Linked DNA regions of Homo sapiens: all the other regions are linked to region 2. Evidence: fine-mapped expression QTL. A gene starts in region 2. Each other region holds a variant in brackets. All regions are shown on one strand. Distances are from middle to middle.

What was found.
Region 1: its variant is fine-mapped to the expression of KCNT1 in blood mononuclear cells (TOPMed, PIP above 0.99).
Region 3: its variant is fine-mapped to the expression of KCNT1 in hypothalamus (GTEx, PIP 0.94).

The regions. Positions count from the first base shown.
Region 1 is chr9:135,766,093-135,774,263 of GRCh38, reverse strand. KCNT1 (potassium sodium-activated channel subfamily T member 1) reads right to left here. Exons shown (of 31, transcript NM_020822.3): 14 at 5,591-5,654; 15 at 5,327-5,435; 16 at 4,209-4,317; 17 at 3,817-3,966; 18 at 3,169-3,407; 19 at 1,315-1,549. Among named protein-coding and RNA genes, the nearest start is that of KCNT1, 68 kb to the right of the region's middle. The variant C/T (reference allele first, on the strand shown) is at 3,837.
Region 2 is chr9:135,698,177-135,706,347 of GRCh38, reverse strand. KCNT1 (potassium sodium-activated channel subfamily T member 1) reads right to left here and starts at 4,163. Exons shown (of 31, transcript NM_020822.3): 1 at 3,980-4,163. The coding sequence starts at 4,089. It overlaps SOHLH1 (spermatogenesis and oogenesis specific basic helix-loop-helix 1), which reads left to right and starts at 6,867. Exons shown (of 8, transcript NM_001101677.2): 1 at 6,867-6,945; 2 at 7,222-7,353; 3 at 7,872-8,019. The coding sequence starts at 6,881. RefSeq lists a silencer at 4,235-4,364.
Region 3 is chr9:134,947,426-134,955,596 of GRCh38, reverse strand. LOC105376313 (a long non-coding RNA gene) reads right to left here. Exons shown (of 3, transcript XR_930421.3): 3 at 6,570-8,171. Among named protein-coding and RNA genes, the nearest start is that of FCN1, 34 kb to the right of the region's middle. The variant C/T (reference allele first, on the strand shown) is at 5,064.

The sequences.
Region 1 (8,171 bases), 68 kb before region 2:
CCACACACACCACACACGGACACACACCACACACAACACACAGACACCACATACCACACACAATACCACTCAGACACACATCACACACACGGACACATACCACACACACCCAGACACACATCACATATCACACAACACACACCACACGTGACAAACACACGTTGACACACAACACACATTACACATATGGACACACACCACACACATAACATACACCACACACACACACCGGACACACCCCCCTTGCACACCCACCCCCATGCCCTACTCGGTCTTTCTCCTCCCACCACAGCCTAGACCAGGCTTTTCAGCCACATGCAAAACCCACAGGGCTCTGCCCGCCCGCCATGCCTCCCTGACATCCCCAGCACCCCCGGCTGGTGGGGCAGGCACTCTGGCCTTGGGCTCTTACCCACATACTTGTCCAGCCAGGCTGTTGTCCCCAGCAGGCCACCACCCCGTCCCCAGCAGCACCCAACACACACATGCAATGGTTCAGGGCTGTTTCCCAGCAGCTGGGCTGTCATTACAGTGTGTTGACCCCACCCCAGAGGCAAAGGCCAGGACAGAGTGAGGCAGCCCCGCTGAGGATGGACCTCGGGCCCTGCAGCTGGGGCACTTGTCTGTCCTGGCTGAGGCCAAAAGGCAGAAGCTGCTGAGAACAGAGTGGGGCCTCCTGTCTCATGATTTGAAGCAGGAGGACTTGGCCCCAAACCTAGGCCAGGACAACAACTCAGGACGGGCTGTGGTTTCCAGGCTGGGACACTGCCTTGCCCAGGGGTTGCACAGGGACCCTGCTCAGAGGACACCCACCCCTGGTCAGGCGGGCTGTGCCCCTCTGTGCTCTGTAGTGCTAAGGGGGAGACCTAGGGCACTGGGTGGAGGATGGCCTGGGGTCACTGCCCAGCTCCATCCTGATTCAGAGAGTGGCCGGGCCACTATGGGGCTGGTGAGGTGGGTGGGAACGGGCCCCTCTCTGAGGGTGGCGCTGCCTGGTGCCTGACAGCCCCTGTGCCAGTGAGCTGCCTCGCTCCAATTAGCTCTGCACCCCCAGCCCCAACTGGAAAGGGTGTAGCCCAGCACACCCCATCTCAGTGACACTCAAAAGTGCTCCCCGGCGACGAGGGTGATGTGGCCCTGATGTCTGTGTTGGGCCCCCTGAAGATTTCATTTGTCAAACAAGGACTTCCACGGAGCTGTCCAGAAGCTGCAATTCAGAGCATGGGGGACCACCAAGGATGCTCCGACACCCATCCCCCGCACTCATGGGCGGCTCCTCCCCCCACTGGGAGCCGTCTCCAAGGCAGCACTCACTCTACCACGGAGAGCCCCTCGTCGTCCGACGGCGTCACCTCATCCTCCGACTGGTCGCTCAGCAGGTCGCAGGGCAGCAGGGCTGAGCTGTCGGCCAGTTCCAGGACGGGCGCGATGCTGGGCCGCCGGCTGCCCGAGCCGTTCTCCGTGGGCAGTGCCAGCTTGCTGCCCCCGCCCCCACCGCCGCTCTGCGTAGGCCGGTGCTCTGTGCCCTGCAGGTCCATGGCCACTGTCCCTGGAAGAGAGCCCTGTGCTTGGCCACAGCCCGACTCCCACCCTCCATGGGCGGCGAGTTCCCAGAGCTCAGGTGAACACAGTCAGCTCTGGAGACCCTGTCATGGCCTGGCTCCTGTGCTCCAGCTGAGGAGCTTCAATCTATGCCTCAGTTTCCCCCTCCATACAACAGGGACAGTGGCCTCTGGGGTGGCGATGATGTTGAGCGAAGACCCAGGGGGCCCCAGTGCCCCATCGGTGCCACCCAGGCCAGCTGCTGTGGCCTCAGCACCAGATGCCTGAGGAGGGGGTTGGCTGATTCTGGGCTCGGGGGTCTCAGCCTTAGGGGCCTGTGCAGCTGGTCAGGCTGCCTGGTGGATGGGGCCAGGTGGGGAGCAGCTGGGTGACTCAGTGCCTGTGGGAGCAGACTCTGCCACTCCTGCACCACCCCAGGCTGCCAGATGGGGGTTGTGGACCTCTAGGTATGGCCCAGGGCCTCTGTGGGTACAGTGAGGGTTGCCCGAGTCACCCTGGTTTCCTGGAAGCCACCTGGGGGCAGAGTGCCTACTGCGCAGGTGAAGGTGGAGGTGTGGCTAGGCAGCAGCAGCCTGCCTCCCCAGTGCCCTGCGGCCAGGCCCGGCCCCCCGAGTGAGCTGCCGTAGACGGCGGCCGGGAACCTGCGGGGTCTGGCAGGTGGTGGGCTCCGCATCGGCACGTCTCCAAACCCCAGGGCCCTCTGGGTCTTGGAGACTGTGCCCCACTGCACTGAACCACCTGGTGCCCCAGCAGCCACCGTGTAACAACACCCCAGGGTGGGCGTGCTGGGGTGCCCCATAGGGTCAGCCTCTGCCTGGGCCACTGTACGGAGGTGGCAACATGCTGGCCCGGCTGTGGGTCTGTGGCCTGAGTGGCTTCCTGGCCTGGCCCTGCTCCCTAACTGTCCCCCAGGAAGGCCTGGCTGGGGAGGGGGCAACACCACTATGGGTGGTGCCCTAGGGGCCATGGGCCTCCACCTGCTCAGAGGCAGCCTGACCCTGTCTGGTAAGCGGCTCCCCGGGAGGATCCCTGAAGGCACGAGAAGAGGCCAAAGCCCTCGGCCACTGCGACCTCATTCCGCCAACTCCTGGCCCCAGTGGACGTCAGGACTCCCGACTGTTTGAGGGACACACGTGAAGCAGACCCTCCGGGCTGATGGGACCACCAGGAGCCTCCGGTTGAGCTGCCAACCGGTCCTGTGGGCGGCCCCACTTGGACAGGCACTTGGACACAGTGAGCAATGCCCACAAAGGTGGCCACAGGAAGGCGGGGACACCTGTTTGACAGATTCAAAAACAGGCCCAGAGAGACTCCACCTGTCCAAGGTTGGAGGCATAGGCCAAGAGGAACTGGGTCTGGGGGCCACATTGGCCTGGTCTCCTGCCCTGCCCGGTCTGGTCTCCTGTCCCACCTGGTCTCCCGCCCTGCCTGGTCTCCCGTCCCACCTGGTCACCTGCCCCTGTCCTGCCTGGTCTCCTGTCCCACCTGGTCACCTCCCCCTGTCCTGCCTGGTCTCCCATCCCACCTGGTCACCTGCCGGTGTCCCGCCTGGTCTCCCGCCAAAGGAGCAGGCCCAGGGAGTCCCGCGCGCCTGTCCCGGCTCACCCATGGAGGCGATGATGCTGTGCACGGGCAGGCGGGCCGGACCCTCGTGCAGCCCCTGCCCCGAGAAGGCCCTCTTCTTCCGCTTCTCCTCCTGCTTGAAGATGAAGGCCGAGTTCTCCTCCTTGGTGATGTTGATGTAGAAGCAGGTGTCAGAGGCGGCCAGGATGTGCCGGGGCCCCGGGTTCAGCAGGATGCTCTTGTTGTCCTCCCGCTTCAGCCCGATGAGGCACACGCCATACCTGGGCAGAGGCACCGGCAACTTCAGGTACCGCCGCTCACCCGCCCTGTCCCGCTCCCTGCCTGCCCTTCCTGCAAATCACCAGAGTCCCCACCGGAGCTCCGCGTCTTCCTCCTGGGGGCCATTTGGGGTCAGGGACCTTGGCTGAGCCCTCCCGTCCCAGAGGTGTTGGGGACCAGAGAGCTGGGGTCAGCCCACAAGCCTCAGGGAGGAGCCGCGTGGCAGGTTTTTATGTGGACCCGGAGCCCAGTCCTGCGGCTGCCCTCGCCAGGCAGGATGACCTGATGCCCTCCCCCGAGCCCTCTGCAGCCCCGCCCCAGGGCCACCCCTGTGCCTGACCGGGAGGGTGGGGAGGGCACAGAGCAGAGCAGCCCTGGAGCGCCAGCCCTGTGGATGCAGCCCGGCCTTACTTCTTGTGGGCGTGGAAGGC[C/T]GCGTAGGTGAAGCTCTTGCCCTCGTACTCGCGGAAGAACTTGCTGTCACCCATGCGGATGTGGTACACCTCGTTGCCGGAGCAGCGCCCATACATGCGCTGCCACTGCTCCGGAGACTCCTGTCCCTCCCTGTGGGCCAGGGCGGGGCCAGGGGAGCGTCACCCTCGGCCATGGCTGCCCCTTCTCCCCGGCTGGGTCTGCAGGTGCCCCCCTCTGCTTCCCCTGGCATGGATCCCCTCCCTATGCAGGACTTTTGCCCGCCATGTGCCCCTCCTCTGGGAAGCCCATCCCCGCCCCCAAGCAGGCCCTGCGTTGTCTCCCTGCGCCGGCCCCGCCATGGAGGTCGGTCCCCCGGGGCACGGGGCACTCACTGGCCGCGGGACGTGTGCACCAGCAGGGTGATGAGGGTGGAGGTCGCCGGGCAGATGCAGTTCAGCGCCAGCATGGCGTACTTGCACTCCTCCTCACACACCACGTGGTCTGCGGGCAGTGGGGGAGGCCGGTCCACCTGCCGCTCTGCCGGCTCTCTCCTCCCCCACAGTACCTGCTCACTTCCTGAAGGTGCTATGCAGATGCACCCTTGCCTGGCACCCCCGTGTCTGCTGTCCGGCTTCAGCATCTCTGCCCCGAGAGTCTGTGGACCTCAACCCCCTACTTGGTCTGAGCCTCGGTGGACCTTCCATCGCTCCTGTGCTTCTCTCCCAGCTCAGCGAGGAGTTCCAGGGCGGGGCAGGCCCTGGCCCCTGTGCCTTGGGCACTCCATGTGGGCCCTGACCCCTGTCCCCTGGGCACCTGGCATGGGGCCTGCCCCCCGTTCCCCGGGCACCCGGCATGGTCCCTGCCCATAGAGGTGCTCATCAGACGGTGCTCCTGCCCCCACCTGACCTCTGACCCTGCCTTCACTGACCCCAGGATCCCAGCATAAGACTTCATCTGAAGAGTTTGGACCCCCTAGGTCCCTTCTCGGATGCGGTGAGGATGGGGGTCTGCCGTCCCCTCCAGCACCTCCTGGTGTGCTTGTGTGAGGAGCTCCAGGGCCAGCCCCTCCCGCTGCCCCACACAGCTCGCCTAACTGCGTGCACATGCGCCCTGCCCCAGACACACCGTCACCCACGTGTGCACACGCGCCCTGCCCCAGACGCACCATCACCCAACAGCATGCACACGCGCCCTGCCCCAGACACACCGACACACACGTGCACACGTGCCCTGCCCCAGATGCACTGTCACCCACGTGTGCACACGCGCCCTGCCCCAGACGCACCGTCACCCACGTGTGCACATGCGCCCTGCCCCAGACGCACCGACACCCACGTGTGCACACGCATCCTGCCCCAGACGCACCGTCACCCACGTGTGCACACGCGTCCTGCCCCAGACGCACCGTCACACATGTGCACATGCGCCCTGCCCCAGATGCACCATCACCCACGTGTGCACACGTGCCCTGCCCCAGATACACCATCACCCACGTGTGCCCCAGACGCACCAGCAAACTTGACGTGAAACTTGTTTTCAGGTTTGAGGATCTGGACGTAGAGGGGGCAGTTGGGGGCGAAGTCCTTCACGGCCCAGGCGCGCAGGATGGTCTGGTGGTCCTGGCGGGGTGGGTGGTTGGTCAGTGCAGACGGGCTGGCCTCTGTGGGCTGCTGGGCGGCACCGGCAGCCTGGGGCAGGTCTCTTCCCTCAGGGACCCCCGCTCCCCGGCCCCACGGTGCCCCTCCCGCCTGGGCAGGGCCTCAGCCTCACTCACTGCAGCCGTGCGGTCCACCTCGTTCCTGCTGCTGAGGATGAAGCAGGCCTCCCCATTGTCCATCCTGCAATGCACCAGGGCCTGAGCGTGGGTGGAGCAGGGGAGGTGGGCAGTGCAGCCGGGGGTGCGGAGGTGAGGTGGGGAGGACCTCCTCTGGGAGGAGGCTGGTGCAGCAGGTGCACAGAAAGAGACTGAGAGGACGGCTGGATGGAAGGCGGAGAGGATGGAAGGCGGGGAGGATGGAAGGCGGGAGGAGGCCCCTACTCTCTGCTGGTCAGGAGTCACAGTGCCCCCTCAGTGGGCATCCCCATACTGCCCCCCCCCCCCCCAACCCACATCACAGTGTCCCCCACGGGCATCCTTGTGTGCCCTCCACCAGCAGGCATCCCTGTGCCCCCCCCACCGGTATCCCAGTGCCCCCCCCCCCCCCCCCGCAGGCATCCTGGGCCTCTCCAGACTCCCTGGCCCATCCCTGGCAGGCTCTGAGCCGGGTCAGGACTCCTGGACACCCTAGGAGACTCCAAGCTCCGACACTCGAGAAGGCACAGGAGCCACACCTGTCCCCCGAGCGTGTGCAGGCTGACAGAGGGTGGGGGCAGGGTTCAGGAGCCACACCTGTCCCCTGAGCGTGTGCAGGCTGACAGCGGGTGGGGGCAGGGGTCAGGAGCCACACCTGTCCCCCGAGTGTGTGCAGGCTGACAGCGGGTGGGGGCAGGGGGTCAGATGCTATGGATGGTGTGTCCTGGAGACACCAGCTGACAGCTTCTCCTGGCCACGGCCCTGAGTGGGAGCCCATGGTGCTTCCTAGGGCAGTGCCTGCCCTTCCTCCCCCAGGCCCTGTTCTCTGAAGCAACCCCCCAGCTTGTCCCTAAGTTGGCCAGGTAGGAGGGGCATCAGGAGGTCGTGCGAGGGGGCTCTGCTGGCTGGGGCTGCCTGGATTTGTCCATACTCCCAGGCGTCAGGGGCTAGGGGTCCAGGGTTGGCAGGAGCAGGCCCGGTGGAGACCCCACCTAGGTGTGTGCCAGTGACCTGGGCACTGGCTTCCGGGGTACCCATCTTGTATGTTGCCATGAGACATTCACCCAGGGCTGGGTTGGGGTGCAGGAGGGAGGGGGGAATCTGGGGGCAGAGACCCTGTCCGCTCCCTGGCCTGGCTACTCTGTGGTCTGGGAACCTGGGTGGTCACTTCCAGCGCCTCCTGGGTCTCCTGAAAGCCCAGCTGCAGAAACCACCTAGCACTGCTGAGACGCTGTCTAAGAAACTGTCGCCTCTGCCCCAGGGCAGGGAACCCCACCACATCACTGGCACCACTGTCTGCTCCGCAGGGGCCCCAGGCCCTGTACCCACAGCCCTGGGCTCATCCCTGCCTGGCTGGGAATGGCCTACGCCCTTGCCCTCTCCCCACTCCCTGGGCCCAAGCAGGTGCATCGCCTGTGTGTGCTGGGGACGGGACCACAAAAGAGGTGGCGTTCCATAGGCAATGGGTTCCAGCTTGGGGCTCTGGACATGGCAGGGGGAGGGGGAGTGATGAGGAGAGACCCTGGGAGTACCACCAACACTATGCCACTAAGGACACATTCAGGCTCCTGGAATGAAAATGTCACCAGGAGGGTTTTCCAGGGAGTGTCCCAGAAAGTGCACCGACACATTCTGGAAAGTTCCAGGTAATAATATACTCTTGTTACCTTGTCACTCTGTCAATTTGTCTTTAAAAGGAACTCTACCTTCAGCCCGTTCTCCCACCTTGACTCACAGCAGCTGACTCTCCCGCCCCTGTTCTATTTTGAGCCTCCCTAGAACTTGACAAAGATTTCCCTAGACTTGGAGCAGGGGAAGGTGGAGCTCGCAAAAGGCTGCCCCTCACCCTGAAAAGGGAGACAGAGACTTAGCTGGGTTGGGCTTGCCTGGGCTGCTCCACAGTGGGTATGGTGCAGGGACAAGGGCCTGGCTGCAGGGTCCTGCTCATCTGGGCCTGGGACCTGAGCTAGAGAAACTGCAAGAGGCCCCGGACAGTCTACCCCAGACAATCCACCCCAGAGGGTCCACCCCAGACAGTCCACCCTGGATGATCCACCCCAGACGGTCCACCCAAGAGGGTCCACCATGGATGGTCCACCCCAGACGATCCACCCCAGATGGTCCACCCAAGAGGGTCCACCATGGATGGCCCACCCCAGACAACCCCAGAGGGTATACCCCAGACGGTCCGCCCCTGATGATCTACCCCAGAGGACCAACCCCAGATGGTCCACCCTAGATGGTCCACCTTGAATGGTCCACCCCAGATGATCCACCCTGGATGGTCCACCCTAGAGATCCATCCCAGATGGTTCACTCTGAATGGCCCACCCCAGACAGCCCACCCCAGATGGTCCACCCTGGACAGTCTACCCTAGATGGTCCACCCCACATGATCTACACTGGATGGTCCACCCTGAACAGTCCATCCCAGATGACCCACCCTGGATGGTCCCCCCTGGACAGTTCACCCCAGATGACCCACCCTAGACAATCCACCCTGGATGGTCCACACTAAATGGTCCATCCCAGAAGGTCTACCCTGAATGGTCCACCCCAGACA
Region 2 (8,171 bases):
TTAAGAATCCATCTTGGGAAGTCACCGGACAAATGCTTAGCTCTGACGTGTCAACACAGGCTGGTGCGTGACAAGGCAAAGACGAACTGGCTGGTGTGCAAGCTCCCGACGCCAACACAGCTTTGTAAACACCAAGTATGTGCTGTCAGCATGGGCTCAACACAACCTCGTAAGGTCCATGCTAGCACTCCCATTCTACAGATGAGGAAACTGAGGCCCAGAGAGGTGAAGTGACTCGCCAGAGCTGACACAGCTACTGCATCTCAGTGCTGGGATGGACCAACCTCACAGACACAGTTCCCAGAAGCTCCTCCAGGCCCTCTGCTCCTCCCGGGGCGCCCGCCTTGTGCCAGTCCAGACCCTGGTCCTGCAATGCCCTCCATCTCCTGATGCCCCCACCTCTGCTCCAGTGAGGCCACCCTCCTCTCCCACCTCCCCCACCTCCCGCCCCCGATCTAGGGAGCAGCTGGAGGCCCCCTCTCAAGGAGGGCCTTCCCAGGGACCTACCCCAGGAAGCTCGCGGCCTCTGCCCTGCCACTGTCCCCTGCAAACCTGTTACACTTGCCAGCTGCTAGTACTGGTCTCACCTCCCTGGGCCAATCGCATCCTGGCCTCAGTTCCAGCCCCGCTGGCTCACTTCCAAGTTCCACAGGTGAAAGTGGGTCTGGGTGAACATGGGTGGCCTTATCCACACACACAGCTGGGAGAGGTCCCAAGACACCTTTGAAAGATGCCCATTTAACCGGGCCTTGGCACCCAGCCACCTAGCACGGGCACGCTGAGCCCAGCCTGCCTTTCCCCAGACTCATGACCGGTGACTTCAAGGTCACACAAGCTGGCTGGCGGGCCCCACACATCCTCCTCCAGCTCTCACACACGTGCCCACGGTGCGCCTGCCTGGCTCACGGAGCGCCCAGGTTCACATGCACACACAGCACTTGTTTTTGGGTACACGATACCCGTTCAGCATCCCTCACCCATGCAGGGCTGGGACACACTTGGACAAACTTTCCTGTTGCAGAGAAACCTGGGATTGTTTGTGGGAGACACAGAAGTGCCACCCTTTCCAGGGCCGATGGCACCTGGGTCAAAGCCTGCAAGTTTGCATCCCGGGGAAGCAGGACAAAAAGCCTCAGGGGAGAGCCCGAGATGCCCCCCAACACCCTCCGAGGGCATGAGATGGCCCCACAGCAAGGCCCCACTACTGCCACACCAGGCTCGTCCCAAGTAATTTTCTGTGTTAATCAAGAGCTCCCCATACGGTGGGTGAACCAGACCAGCACACTTGGAGGCTGCCGGGTGCGAGGACACAGGCCACACCCAGGCCAGCCACTGGAACAGAAGCAGAGGCCCTCGTGGGGACCCTGTCTGCTCCCTTCTCACTCACCTCTGTCCTCCTGAGCTGTTACTGTGGCCACTCCTGGGCCACAGCAGACCCCTGAGTTCCCTGTGGCCTGAGCCGTCCCTCCTGCCGGCCAGTGCTGGGCGGTATCTTGGGCCCTCAAACCTTTCCCATGAGCCCTGAGCTACTTCCTGCTGCTGAAGGCACTGCTCCCTAATATGGGCCTGGAGGGCTGGCCAGGACCTTGGGCCAGGCATGTACCCTGGCAGGATGCCAGGGCCTGATCCCATCAGGGCCTAGAGGGTCCCAGGCCCGCCCTGGAGCACAGCTGCTGGGAAGTGGTATTTCCAGGAAAGGCCTGGCAGGGGCTCTGATGCGAAGTGCGCTGGGCAGGGGGTGGGCACTTGCCAGCTCTGGGGCCACCAGGGCCACTGGTCCCTCCCTGTCCTACAACAGCTGTCATCTCCAGGGCCTGTGGGGAGGCAGCTGAGGGCCTGGGACTCCATGGCATGGAGGTGGGAGCAGGGAGCCTGGAGGCCAGAGGCCCGTGAAGACCCCTGCAAACTGGAAGGCCAGGAGCTCCTCTCTGGAGCCCCACTTTCCGGCCTGATGGCCTTGAGGCTGACTCAGGGACACCACTAGCGTGGAGCTGGGGGTTTGAGCTGGGGCACTGGAGTGGGGTGGGGTGTCCAAGCACCTCCTGGCCCCTCTGAACCATAGCACCAAGGCTGGCATCCTCCAGCACCCAGGAAAGACAGAGGCCTGCTCAAGGCCTGGCACCAAGACCTATGGACTCCAGGGCCTGGGTTCTGACCACGCTGTTGCCTGGCACCCTCCTCCCCATGTGAGAGCTGGTGGGGAAACCCGCCCCACAGAGCTCCCCCCACCACCAGGCAGCACGAAGGTTCTTCTTTCTGCAGCTGAAGCCACCTGCCTGGGCCGCAAGCCTTGGCCTCACCTGGAGCTCAGCTCCCCGCTCCCGAGCCCAGCCAAGCCCAGGTCCTGCTCCCTCCCCAAGCCTGACGCCTGACATCCCTCCACTGCCGGCGGCTGCTCTGCCTGCAGTGTGACAGGGAATCTCTGTTGCAACGGAGGCCAGCTCAGTCCAGCGGGGAGGAGGAGCTGTCCCGGGCCGGTGGGCAGGGCCAATTGGGAGAGACAGGTGTCTGGAAGGACCCGGAGGATGAGGCCTGGAGCTAAAGGCTGGACCCTGAGGACACTGTCCTGCCGGCTCGTCTGGAGCAGGTCAGGCCCAGCAGGGTAGGTGATAAACTCCAGCAGAATGGCCAGGGAGGGCAACGCTAGGCTGGGGAGGGAGATGGTAGGGGCCGGCCAGCCCACAAAGATGAGGGCAATCCAGGACCCCCTTGGGGTCATTTTCTCTGTGCCTGACAGGCATCCCCCGGATAGTCCCTCAGAGCACGTCCAGGCTGTGCCCACTTCCCAAGGACATCACCAAGTCACTGTCCACCCTCAGAGCACCTGCTCCTCACACACGCTGTACCCCGGACTCCCCCGGGTGCCAGGTGGGTGCTGTGCCTGCCTCTTGATTCTGGGAACCTCCTCTCCAGCCTGGTCCCTCACCAGAGGCAGCCCTTAAAGACCATCCGCCCTACCTCCTCATTTTACACTCGGGGAAACTGAGTCCCATAGAACAAACAGGCAGCCGCACCAGGCCTCCCGCTCTCAGGTATGCTCTTCCACCCCCTTCTCTGGCCTCAGGACAGCCTGAGACTGGGCAGGATCCAGAAGAAAGGGCTCTGTCCTGGTGGGGAGGGGTTCGCCCAAGGCAGTGACCGGCTCTGCCCAGGGTTCCCTGGAGTCTGGCTCTGGGGACAGGGTGAGGGGCAGACTTGCCTGTTTTCAAGAGCTGAGGGATGGGGGAGAGGATGGGGAACCTGGACCCTGGGGCAACCTCCGCTCAGGACTGTCCCACTCAGCTGCCGGTCCGTGCCTCTGCACTGGTCACTGGGTGGACGGCAGACGCATGGCATCCCAGGACACTGCACAGGGAACAGCTAGCTCCAGGTCACCTGAATGCCATTCTCAACTGGCCCTCTCCTCCCAGGGATAGGCCAGCGGGGAACGAGGAGTGACCAGAACCCAGGACTCCCGCCCTCATCTGACAGCCACTTAGCCCACTTCCCACTGGGGACTCTTCCTTGGAAGGTTGCTCTGGAAACCCCCTACTGTGTGGGGTAACCTCGCCGGGCACCCCACCCTGGCCGAGCACTGCCATGCCACACAAGAAGGATGGAACCTTCCTCCCCAAGCTGGGGTGGGGCAGGGGCTGGGGGAGATGGAAGGCCCTGCACCGCCCCCAGCCTCCCTGCCACTCCCCACACCTGGGAGATGCTCAGGACCCCCATGTAGCCACGGCCGCTCCCCCCAGCTTCTTACCAGGTCGAGGACAGATGGGGACGGACGCTGCTGCCTCGGCACCTGCTGATTAGTGCGGCCCACCCTGAGGGGCGCCCCTGTTCCCCAAGGTGGTTGGGAGGGCACTCGCGGGTCCTGGGGAAGTTGGATGGCCCTGGGAATGGCGGGTCCTGGAGGGTGCGGGAGCCTGAGGGGGAACTTGGGGGTCTTAGGTTAGACCGGGGCCTCCCCGCGTGGGGAGGGCGCAGCAGACTGTACCTGGGGGCGCATTGGCCGTCGTCAAACTCGAAGGTCCGGTTGGTGTAGCCCCCGCCGCGCGCCTCCCGGCAGACGCCCCCCGGGGTCCGCGCCCCGTCAGGGAGTGGCATGCGGCCTGGCAGCTCGGACCCGACCCGAGGGAGAAGCGAGTGGGAGCCGCCACCTTCTTCCCTCGCGTTGCCCTGAAAAACATTTTTTTTTTCCTCGCAGATTAGCGAGGAAAAGACGCCAGTTCCAGGGTCGGGTGCAGGCGTCTGTCCGCGCGCGCCCCCTGCCGGCCGCGCCGGGACCCGCGGCGGCTCTGGCCCAGGCTGGGACGGGGGTGCGGGGTAGGGAGGGCGATCCGCTCCCGCCGCGGCCCTCTGAGCCCTCAAAACTCCGAAAAACAGGACGGGGTTCGTCAATGGCTAGAAAAGCCCAAGCGCGCCGCCACCGGGCCCTACACCCCTGGGAGGGCTCCGTGGTGGGCGGGGGCTCAGGGGGCTCTGGGTCCTTGGCGGGCAGCAGGGCACATGCGCTGCTCGGACCGCCAGCGTCCAGCCGCTGCGCCCAGGGACCGTCAGCACCTCCCGCTTGTGCTGCTCTGCCGTGGTCAACACTGGTCATTGAACACAAGCCAGATTCAAGACGACTCCCCGCCCCCCCGCCCCCACACCCCCCGCAGGCTGCGGCATCTGTGGGTGGGCGCCACATCCTGGGCTTGGCCTGGGGGAGGGGGATGACTGCACCCCGCCCTGTGCTCTCACCCAGACGGGCACACACAGCACCTTTAGACGGGTGGGGAGGGGCCCCAACTTAAGATGCTGCAGGCCAAAGACTAGGAAGCAGAGGGTCCCCCTGCGGGCCCCCTTTCCCGTGCACGTGCTCACACTGTTACACATGCGTCACCCTGGCTCAGCCTCACACAGAGCTCTGGAGAACTGCGATTTCTGTCCCCAGAGCTTTGTTGGTTTGCAGGGTGGACCAGGCCCCTCACTAAGCCAGGACTGTGCCCACGAGGGCCAGGGGGAGGGCCAGGTCCATTTGGAGGGCGCATGCCATGTACTTTGTGGTCCCTGGCCTCCCCAGTGTCTCTCCAGAGGGTCCTTCCCTGTTTCTCCAGGAGGCAGCAGGCTGAACACAGATGCTTTTGAGGGGTGGGTGGGGAACACTCGGGGAAGTCTAGGATGCTAAGTCCCCAGCAGAGGTTCAGCCTGTGCCCCCGCCACACAGCTCGTGGGCATCTTGGGGGTTTTTCCTCAGGTCCCTAGATTGGCCGGTGCTGCTGCCGGGGTCCCACCACCCCTGGGCGGGTGCCGCCGGGGCAAGATGGTGGCCTTTCTGCCAACGCCCTCCTGCCTGGGGAACTCAGAAAAAACTGAGAGGCCGCACCATCTGCATCTGTGATTAATTAGCAGTAATTACACGTGTTGTCAACGGCAGGAGAGTCACAGGTTTGATGACATTCCGAGGGCTTTAGGGAAACAAAAACTTGGCCCCACTCTGCCACTGAGGAGCCCCAGATCGCCAGCCCGTCCATCCCTCCCTGGCCAGGGGCAGGGCCGGGAGAGGGGCCCAGGTCCCCGAGAGCTTTTGCCCTCCTCTCCAACCCCGTCCTCCTCCATGTCTGACCTGCAGCCAAGGCTGGGCGGAGCAGGGATGGAGACACCACCTTATATTACATAACCTCCCTCTGCTCCAAACACCCTTCACCCATCTTTGGCCCAAAGTCCAGGATGCCAGCCCGAGGCCCAGAGCCGCGCCTTCTCCACAGGAGACTGGGGCACCCCGGACAGACGTCCCCGTGTGGTGGCACCTGCCCGGGCTCCTTCTTGCCTCCCCTCTCGGGAGGAGAGCCCCTGCCACCCACCCCACCTCCTCCCGCTACGACCTCAGCACGAGCCAGGCCAGGGATGTCCTCCCAACAGTCCAGCCTCACCCCCCACCCTCGTCCCCTCTGCTTCCCTGAGGGCCCCCCGCAACCTCCGTGAAAGAGGAAGGGTCTCCACCTCCCCCTTCCCTCCGTCATCCCCCCAAAAGTATGTACTGGGGGACTCAAGCCCAGCGCAGGGCGGCTCCTGGAGTTCAGCGGGGAGGTGAGCAAACACCTGGCGCCGGAGCTTTCTGAATTTGGATGGGCAGGACCCCCGCGATCCCGCAGAAACCTGTTGAGAGTGTGAGGTGAGGGGTCGAGCTGGGGCCCCAGGGCATAAAGCGGGGATGGTGCTTGGGCAGGGCCAGGTGAAGGGACAGACGGTTCCGAGGGTGCCCGGCAGAGCTCAGCGGGAGGAAGAGCACGGACGATGGTGGCCTGGGGTGGGGACAAGATGCCCCTGGTTCTGGGCGACCCAGAAGTGTGGATGGTGACCCTACCCTGAGGCGCAGCGTCTGCAAGCGTACTAGATTTGGGGGAAAATGGAGGCGTGGGCGACTGGGGAGCAGGCGGGTACCCTTCCCCCTCCCTGTGTCCCTGGGTCCCCCAGGCCTGGGCTAAACAACTCAGCCCAGCCCGCCCACTCCCACCAGGGGCTGGGCTCCTAAGGGCAGAGCCCGCATCTCCAAAGTGCCCAAGGGCACCGAGACCACCGCATAAGTGGGAACCGAGGCGACCCCCGGGAAGGTAAGGGTAGAGGCAGGGCCACCTGGGCTGGGGCCCCTTCCCCTGGCGTCCTGCGGGGGCATAGAGTGGGTGGACCCCCCGAGTCCCTTTCCAGCACCTTCTTTGCAGGAACGCGGGTCACGTGGGCCCCGGGCTGGCTGCGTGGGGAGGGCTAGAGCGCATGCGCTATGGGGGCGGATTGCAAGTGGGGGTGGGGTGGGCTAGGTGGAAAGCACGTGGCAGGTGGGCAGAGCACACGTGAGGGGGCGGGGCTGCCTGCGGAAGGGGCCGTGCGCGTGGGGTCGCTCCGCAGCTGCGAGTTCATGGCGTCCCGGTGCTCCGAGCCCTACCCGGAGGTCTCCAGAATCCCTACCGTCAGGGGATGCAAGTGAGGAATTGGGCTGGCGGCCAAGGGGTTGGGGGCCCAAGGCCTGTACCCAGGGGTTCTTCCGCAAGTTGCTGGGCTCCACCCATCCTGGGCCTCCTGGGGCGGAGCCCTGGACCCTGGGAGAGGGGAAGGGGTGCAGAGAGGGCCGGGCCGTGTCCCTACGTGACCCAGTCTTGGCTTCCACCCGCACCCCAAAGACGCCCATTCTGGCATCTGGGACTCCTGGTGGCCTTTTCTGGGGTTCTCAGGGCCCGGTGCTCTTGGCTTTCTCGGCAGCGGCTCCCTGTCTGGTGCCCTCTCCTGCTGCGAGGACTCGGCCCGGGGCTCGGGCCCGCCCAAGGCCCCTACGGTGGCCGAGGGTCCCAGCTCCTGCCTTCGGCGGAACGTGATCAGCGAGAGGGAGCGCAGGTGAGTGGTGGTGCCTCCCAGGGGTGAGGGCGCTGTAAAGGGGTGGAGCGGGTGAGATTATGTTCGGGGCTGCCACCAGGTGTCAGGCAGCTGGGAGGGGCTCGTGGCCTGTGCCCAGGAGAAGGACAGACTGCACATCTCCAAGTAAACCAGAAAAGCCCTGTTGGGGAACATCCTGCAGCCCCTCTTTATCCTGAAGCCTTGGCCTCTTGAGGCTGTGCACCTGTGACCCTCTGTGCTTCTGACTGCCTCTGACCCTCGCTGTCTTTTCCACACCGCAAAGCAGCCATGGTTTGGGCCTGGGCTGGACAGCCTGTCGCCGAGGTCCAGGGGTCAGGCCCAGGCTGTGCTCTGATGTGGATCTCGGGGCTTCAGACCACGGGGGCAGCTCTGAGTCATCTTGTAGCCCCCTCTGCCTGACAAGCGCCCAGGGTCTATCTGGCAGGTTCTAGCAGTTGCTGTCCCTTCTCGGGGAGGGCAGGAGGGCCCAGAGGTATTTGTTTCTTGACCGGAACCAGGAAGCGGATGTCGTTGAGCTGTGAGCGTCTGCGGGCCCTGCTGCCCCAGTTCGATGGCCGGCGGGAGGACATGGCCTCGGTCCTGGAGATGTCTGTGCAGTTCCTGCGGCTTGCCAGCGCCCTGGGGCCCAGTCAGGAGCAGCACGCTGTGAGTTGTAAGGGTAGACGCCGTCAGTCCTCCGGCATCACGGTGATGGGACATCTCACCACCTTGCAGGCAGTGTGTCCCCTGTCATCCCCGTCTCCTTCAGCCCTCTGGGTCTCCACGGCTAGAGCAGGCCACGTTTTCGGCAGGGCACT
Region 3 (8,171 bases), 750 kb after region 2:
TTCCTCTGACATGGTAGCTCCCACAGTGACAGAAACTTGGGTTTGGAGCCTCTATTGTCTGGCTGTAGCACCTGCCATGCCAGCCCCAGGCCCAAGGTCACATAGTGGGAGACAAGGGTGAGCATGGATTCTCCTTACTTCCTTACTCTGCCAGCTGCCTTCCCTCTGCTCTGAACTGCGGGACCTGAACTCAGACTCCAGGGCACTCTAAGCCATGGCTGCATGGTGGGGTCCCTGGTAATGCAAGTCTTCTGGACACACTCACTCAGCTGGGGAGAAGTTTGCCAAGTTCTGGCTCAGATGACTAGGAGAGATGGCTTGGCCTCCTCAAGCCCAGGCCCTGGCAGGGCAACCAAATGCATCTCCCTGAACCCACCAGGCTTAGGTGCCAGAGGACAGGATTTCTATGTCTTCTTCATTGTTTTTCCCCAGTGCCAAGTGCATAATAGGAGCTCAATAAATATTTATTGAATAAATAATCTTTGCATGAATTGTTATAAAATCTCTGCCAGAGTCAGTGCTACTCGCAGACTGTGTTTCTCTCTCCTGACACTTGGTGGTTGTTAAATCAGAAATCGTCCCCTATCTTCATCCATCCAGCCGTCCACCCAATGGCACACTTCTAAACGATTTGTGACAGCTACAGGTACAAACATAGGTGACATCTGAATACATTTTTGGGCATTTGCATAGGGGTTGTTCACTCCTAAGGTCTCACCCTAACGACTGTGTTGGAGGTTATTGTGCCACGGGGCCTTAGGCACAAAGGGCTCGGGTTTGGTGCTGAGATTCCAACTTTAGCTGATGCATTGACAGTAGCATAGGAAGCAGCTGGTGGGTTTTATTTGCAGCCTGGAGGGGTCAGCACAGAGGAGGGTGGAAGGCGAGCATGAAGGAACAAGAGAAAGCAAAGGACACTGGGGTTCATGGCTGTTCACGGGTCTGCTGAGAACGGAGGAGGGCTTTGCTTTGGCACCGTCTAAAAATACTCAGAGTGCTCGTGATGCCCACAGCTAACTTCATACTTAATTCAGAAGGACTGAAAAAGCTTTCTACCTCTGATCAGAAACATGACGAGGATGTCCCTTCTCCCCACTTCTATTCAACAATAGGGTTCTAGCAAAACCTAGTCAGGAAAAAGAAAAGATATCCACATAGGAAAGGAAAAACAATCTCAATTTGCAAATGAAATGATCTTCCTAAGAAATCCATGAAAAATACTCTTAGAACAAATAAACAAGTTCGGCAATGTGGCAGGATATAAGATTAATATACAAAAATCAATTTTATTTCTACACACTTGTGATGAAAAAGCCAAAAATGAAATTTAAAGAAATTTCCACTTATAATTGCATATATACCTAGGGATAAATTTAACAAAAGAAGCCCAAGGCTTGCACACTGAAAGCTACAAAAGGTTGTTAACAGAAATGTTTAAAGACCTAGATAAACACAAAGATATCCCACATTCTTGAAGGGCATGACTTGCTGTTGTTAAGATGGTGGTACGCCCCCACATTTACCTACAGATTTGGTGTAATCCCTATCGAAATTCTGCCTGACTTTTTTGGTAGAAATAAAGAAGCTGATCATAAAATTAGTACAGAAACTCAAGAGATCCAGAGCAGCCAAAATATTCTTGAATAGAACAAAGTTGAAGGACTCAGACTTCCTGATTTCAAAACCCACTATAAGGCAACAATAAAGATAGTGTTTATTGGCATAAGAATAGACATATGGATCAATGGAATAGAACTGAGAGTCCAGAAATAAACCAATAAACCCTCACATCTATGGCCTATTGATTTTTGATAAGGGTGCCAAGACCATTCAATAGGGAAAAATAGCCTTTTCAACAAATGGCGTTGGAATAACAGAATATCCATATGCATATTCAAAAATTATCCACATATAAAAAACTAATTCAAATGAATCAAAGATTAGGCCAGGCACAGTGGCTCATGCCTATAATCCCAGCACTTTGGGAGGCCAAGGGGGGCAGATCACCTAAGGTCAGGAGTTCAAGATCAGCCTGGCCAACATGCCGAAACTCTGTCTCTAGTAAAAATTCAAAACTTATCTGGGCATGGTGGCATGTGCCTGTAGTCCCAGCTACTTGGGAGTCTGAGGCAGGAGAATCTTTTGAACCAGGGAGGTGAAGGTTGCAGTGAACCAAGATCATGCCACTGCACTCCAGCCTGGGTGACAGAGTAAGACTCTGTCTCAAAAAAAAAAAAAAAAAAAAAAAAAAAAAAAAAAAAACATGGATCAAAGATTTAAATGTAAGAGCTAAAACTATAAAAGCTCTTAGAAAAAAACAGGCATAAATCTTTGTGACCTTGTGTTACTCAACAGCTTCTTAGATATGAAATCAAAAGCTCAAGGAACAAAAGAAAAGACAGATGAATTAGACTTCATTAAAATTAAAAGCTTTTGTGCTTCAAGACACAATAAATTAAAAAGACAACTGACAAAATGGGAGAAAATCGTTATATATCATCCATCTGATAAGTGACTTGTATCTAGAATAAAGAACTCACAGCTGGGCACAGTGGCTCATGCCTGTAATCCCAGCACTTTGGGAGGCCGAGGCAGGAGGATCACCTGATCCTGATCTTGACAAGATTGAGACCATTCTGGCCAACATGGTGAAACCCTGTCTCTACTAAAAATACAAAAATTAGCTGGGCATGGTGGTGTGCACCTGCAGTCCCAGCTATTTGGGAGGCTGAGGCAGGAGAATTGCTTGAACCTGGGAGGTGGAGGTTGCAGTGAGCCAAGATCAAGCCATTGCACTCCAGCCTGGTGACAGAGTGAGACTCCATCTCATAAAAATAAAATAAAAGAATAATAATAATAATAATAATAATAATAAGGAACTCACTATGCAATAATTAAAAGACAGAGAACTCAATTTTTTAAAAAGGGGCAAAAGACTTGAATAGACATTTCTCCAAAGAAGATACACAACTGGCCAATAAGCACATGAAAAGATGCTCAGCTGCATTAGCCATCAGGGAAATGCAAATCAAAATCACAGTAAGATACCACTTCACATCCATTAGCATGGCTGTAGTCATGAAGACAGATAATAACAAGTGTTGGCAAGGATGTAGAGAAATTGGAACTTTCATATGCTGCTGGTGGGATGTAAAATCATGCAGTTGATTTGAAAACAGCCTGGCAGTTCATCAAAAGATTAATTATTCAGTTACCATATGACCCAGCAATTGCACCCCTAGGTATATGCTCACAAAAACTGGAAACATGTTCACATAAAAACTTGTACATGAATTTCATAGCAGCATTAGATCTTAACAGCCAAAAAGTAGAAACAACCCAAATGTCTACCAACTGACAAGTAATACCATGGAATAGTATTCAGCAACCATGGAGTATTATGCAGCAACAAAAAAGGATGAAGTACAATTGTGTGCTGCAACATGGAAGAGGCTTGAACACATTCTGCCAAGTGGAGAAGCCAGTCACTAAGAGCATCCGTTGTCTGATTCCATTTATACAAAATGTCCAGAATCAGCAAATTCATAGAGACAGACAGGAGATTGGTGCTGGCCTGGGGTCAGGTAAGACCTAGAGGAGGTGAGGGATCGGGGAATGACTGCTAATTAATACAGGCCTTCTTTGGGAAGGGACAATGAAAATGTTCTCACATTAGACTGTGCTGATGGTTGCACAGCTCGTGGAGACAGTTACTAAAAAGCATTGAGTTGTGTATTTTAAATGGGGAAATTCGATAGTAGGCAGATTACAGCTCAACAAAGCTGTTAAAACCATCACAATAACCAAGAAAGATTCTGTACCTACCCATGGTCCAGATCTCAACTGACCCGTGGCATACACGCATGAGCGTGCTGAGCAAAGCAAGCTGCGTCTGCAGGCGAGGACTTGCAGGGCATGAGCTGAGGCCAACCCCAGAGCACCGGCGGGGCTGGGGGGTGCGGCACAGATTTGCCCTCCACAAGGTGCACTCTCGTCCTTTTCTGTTTGAGATACAATTTAACACAATATGATGCACAGATCTTAATTTAGTAAATTTTAACAATTGTAGGCACCCACGTAACTACCACCCTAAAACTCCAAATTATGGCATATTGCCATCACCCTAGAAAGTTCCCTGGAGCACACAACCAGCCAGAGTTTTGGGAAGTCAGGAGTGAGAGAAAGGAGGCGGACTCCCAAGTGGGGCCATGACTGCAGCCTATAGGATGGGTTTGCAGAGGGTGAGACAGAGATCAGTTAGCAAAAGGGACCTTTGTCCTCCCTGAAAGCTGATGGAAACTGAAGGAAAGAAACCCTTCTGCTGAAGGAAATGCAGCAGGGCCCACATTCCCAAAGCCCCTGGGATGATGATCTTTTGGTCATTCCTTGTCCTCGCTCTTGGGGAAAACGTCAGCTACCATTTCCGCCCTGAGTCTGCCAAGGGGAGAAGGAAGAGAGAGGAGAGCATTCCTGAATTCAGAGTGCGTTGACAACAGTTTCAGAAAGGTGGATGGATGGGCGTATCCTTCATGACCAGGGACCACGGATGGGTGGAGGTGATGCAGACCTTGCCAACTGCCTCAGCCCGTCCTTGCCCAGTATGCACCCTTACACCCTGGCCATCAGCCAGCTCCACGCGCCCAGGGAGGCGGATGCCCCACACACAGCGTCTTGAGGGCACAGCCGGTGCATCTTCCAGGGCCATTTGGAGAAATAGGAGTTTTGTTGTTGCTGTTGTTTTCTAACACAGTTTGGTCTGGGGCCTCCAAAAGGCCAGCTATAGACACTATAAATTGATGGGTTTCTAGGGAAACCTGTCAGAACAGAAGATGAGTTTCAGCCACTGTGGCAGTGACGGGGCCAGAGGCAGAAATGGCCTAGAGGTACCATATGCTCTCGTAATGTACTTTGCTTCCTGCTATTTATGAGCGGAGGACGCTCTGAGTGCATCGTTCTCAATCAAGGGCATGACCAGCAATCACTCTGTGTGACTCAGCTGCCAGTGGGCCATGGGGTTGACCCTGGAGAAACCTCAGGGGCCTGGGTAGGCCTCCAGCCAGAGT[C/T]GGAACCTGGCCTCAGTTCCTCCCGCCTGCACACCCCTCTACAAGTATGGCCTAAAGGTCACGAAATATTTAGCTCTTCCCCTTCGCCTCTAGGACAAGAAGGGAGCCAGAGATCCAAGGGATGAGAGCCCAGCTTCAGAAATCAGACAGACAGGTGTGGTCTTAGCTCTTCCGGCAGGATGTGACTTTCAGCTAGGTGCCCCAGGGGATCTGTCCCCACCCACATTGCAGTGGAGAGGTGGCACTCTACTCCAGAGGCGGGGCTCAGATGCTGGACCAAATTGAGGACCAGCTATAACAGGGATGGGGTGGAAGCACCTTTCCATAAGACACGCCCACCAGTGTGAGTTGACCGCTGCCATGGCAACACCTGGGCGTTACCTCCTCTTTCCATGGCAATAACCCCAGGATCTAGAAATTTCTGCATAAACCACCCCTTAATCTGCTTGTAATTAAAAGTAGATATAGATGTGACTGCACAACTGCTCTGAGCTGCTCCTCTCAGCGCACTGCCTGTGGGGTAGTCCTGCTCTGTAGGGACAGTCACGGAGCTGCAACACTGCCTCGTCAATAAAGCCCCACCCCACCAGGGGCTTGCCCTTGAAGTCTCTCCTGGGTGAAGTAAAGAATCCTTGGGGGCCCAGCCCCACTTTGGGGCTCCCTGCTCTGCATCAGCGTGATGGGCCTAATGGTTGACTCAAGGTAGGGAGTACCCAAGTCAATGCATGCTGGGGACTCGGCAGTGGGGCTGCCCTGAGCGGAGGAGGAATATCCTGACAGACTGGCTGTCATTCAGGGGGGAGTGGGGTTGTGGTTGGCGCAGGAGCCCAGCTGAGGACAGGCATGAGTCAGGGTGGCAGTGGATGCTGTCATGTTCTGGGACCCCAGGCAGGGCACAGTGTAGCTGTGCCACGAGGTACACAGGAAAGGACGAGAGGCCTCCAAAACGTTCACAGTTGTTATTTCTGGGCAGTTCTTCATGTTCTTTAAATTTTCTGCATTTCTCCAAACTCTTTACCCAGCACACAGGGCCTTTACAATCAGAAATCTAAGAGAGTCACTGCGCTCAAAGCCACGCTGGGGCATGGCACCACGGACATGGCACACTGTTCGGCCTGTCATATGCCTCACATACGAGCTCACGTTTCTCGAGGTTTGCCCACCCACCCAGCCCCGTTCTGGGCTCTTGCTCAGGCTACGGCATTGATCTCATTACCCCCCAGTAGGCGAGGAAGGGGCACAGGTTGGGAAAGTTGTGCCAGGTCATATGGTTGGTAACTTGTGCAGGGAAGCCTCTCACCTGAACTGTGTTTCTCCTCTACTCTCACACCTCAATAATCATCAACACAGGAGAAGACTTCTGTGATGCTCCCCCGCCAAGGCTGCCCCTACACACACCAGCCGCAAGTCTGGGCCCCTGGAACTTCTGACTGGCCGCCTTCAGGTTGGCATTCCCATGACCCCCTCTTTCCAATTCTATTAATTTGCTGGAGCAGCTCGCAGAGCTCAGGCAAACACATTTATAGATTAATGAAAAAGAATATTGCAGATGAAGAGATGCGTAGACCGAAGTGGGAGGAAGGGACGCAGAGCTCCCACATCCTTGCTGGGCGCGCCACACTCCAGGAACCGCACTGAACCGAGTCCTCTTGGGATTTTATGGAAGCTTCATGATGTCAGCATTCCTTCCCCCATGGCATAGGATGGGACCCTCTCATGGGAGGGTCTTAAGACCCACAATCCGAAAGGCAGGAGAAAGTTAGGGTGCCGCCTTGGGGCAGGTGAAAGGAGGGCAGGAGAAGGCAGAGGCTGCCCATGAGGCTCAACACCCCCAACATTCTAACGCAAATGGGAACAAGTGCTATGGGAGTTATAAGCCAGGAGCCGCAGACGAAAACCCGTATCTATCCTAACAGCACATAACTATACAAAATCTATTTCCTGGCCACATAGTCACTTTTTAACGTAACCTTGGTTAACAGCATGGTGTTCAGTGTTTACAGAACACCTGGGCCTGGAGTGAGTGTGCCGGTCAGGTTCACATAGATATAAAGGATATGAAGGGAACCCCGGACACTGCTCCAAAAAGCAGACCCAGGGATGCCTGTGGGTGGCCGGTGATGGGCCCCTCTCACCCCTGGGGAGCTGGGCTGGTTGCAACCTGTCCGCCGGCACTGCCAGGCCAGGGTCACGGCTGAGGATACCCAGGGCAGGTGCAGAGGTGAGGAGGTCCCAGGTGAGCACCCTGGGAGTGGGGTGAGCTCTGCCGCGGCTTTCCTGGGGAGGGCTGTGGGAGGCGCAGGTGTGTCAGCAACGACCTGAGGCTGTGCTGTGGCCCCATGGCTTGCTGTCCATGGCCTTCATCTGCCTCTCGCCTCCTCTGGAAATGAGAGTGACTGTCCCGGCCACCCTGACCCCGCTGACCGAGAGCCCAGACGAAGGGGTAGTGGAGGGGGACCTGCTTTTCTGTCCAGAAGGATTTGGTTTGAGCCTTAGTTTCTCATGCAGCTGCAGGTGACAAGGGCCGGCAGCTGTGCCTGGCAGGGCAGGGCCCTTCTATCCAATTCTGAGCTGAATCTTCCAAGCCAATGATCTCACAGACGTGGTGTCAGTGTTACAACAGCCCGCGAGGCTGCCGAGCCACTGAGAAACTAGGGTCACCTGCAAGTGAGCAGGTGGGCAGCACCAGGCAGTGTGGGGGCAAGGATGCCTGCAGGGGCACCTCCTGCAGGGATGAGCCTTCTAGCACATTCTAAGGGAACCAACGCCCTCTGCCCTGCTGGTGCTGTCCCCAGAGACTTTGATAGCTGGGTTTTGGGTGGGTCTTGGCTTCTCAATGTAAGAGGCCAGTGCGGGGTCCTGACGTGCAGCTGGGCTGGGGCGGTGTTCAGAGCACCGGGCTCCTGTCCTCTCTCCTCACCCGTCATGCAGGGACCTCCAGCCTTCCTTCCCCAGGCTGCTGGGGTGGGGAGGGGTGTGGAAGCTAGAGTCTGTGCAGCAAACATGGGTGGTCGACACTGCTGTCTGTCAGGCGGAGCAGCCCTAGAGCGGCACAGCCGGTCCGCTCCCCCGCATCCTTGGAGACAGATGGCCAGAGCCTCTGCTGGG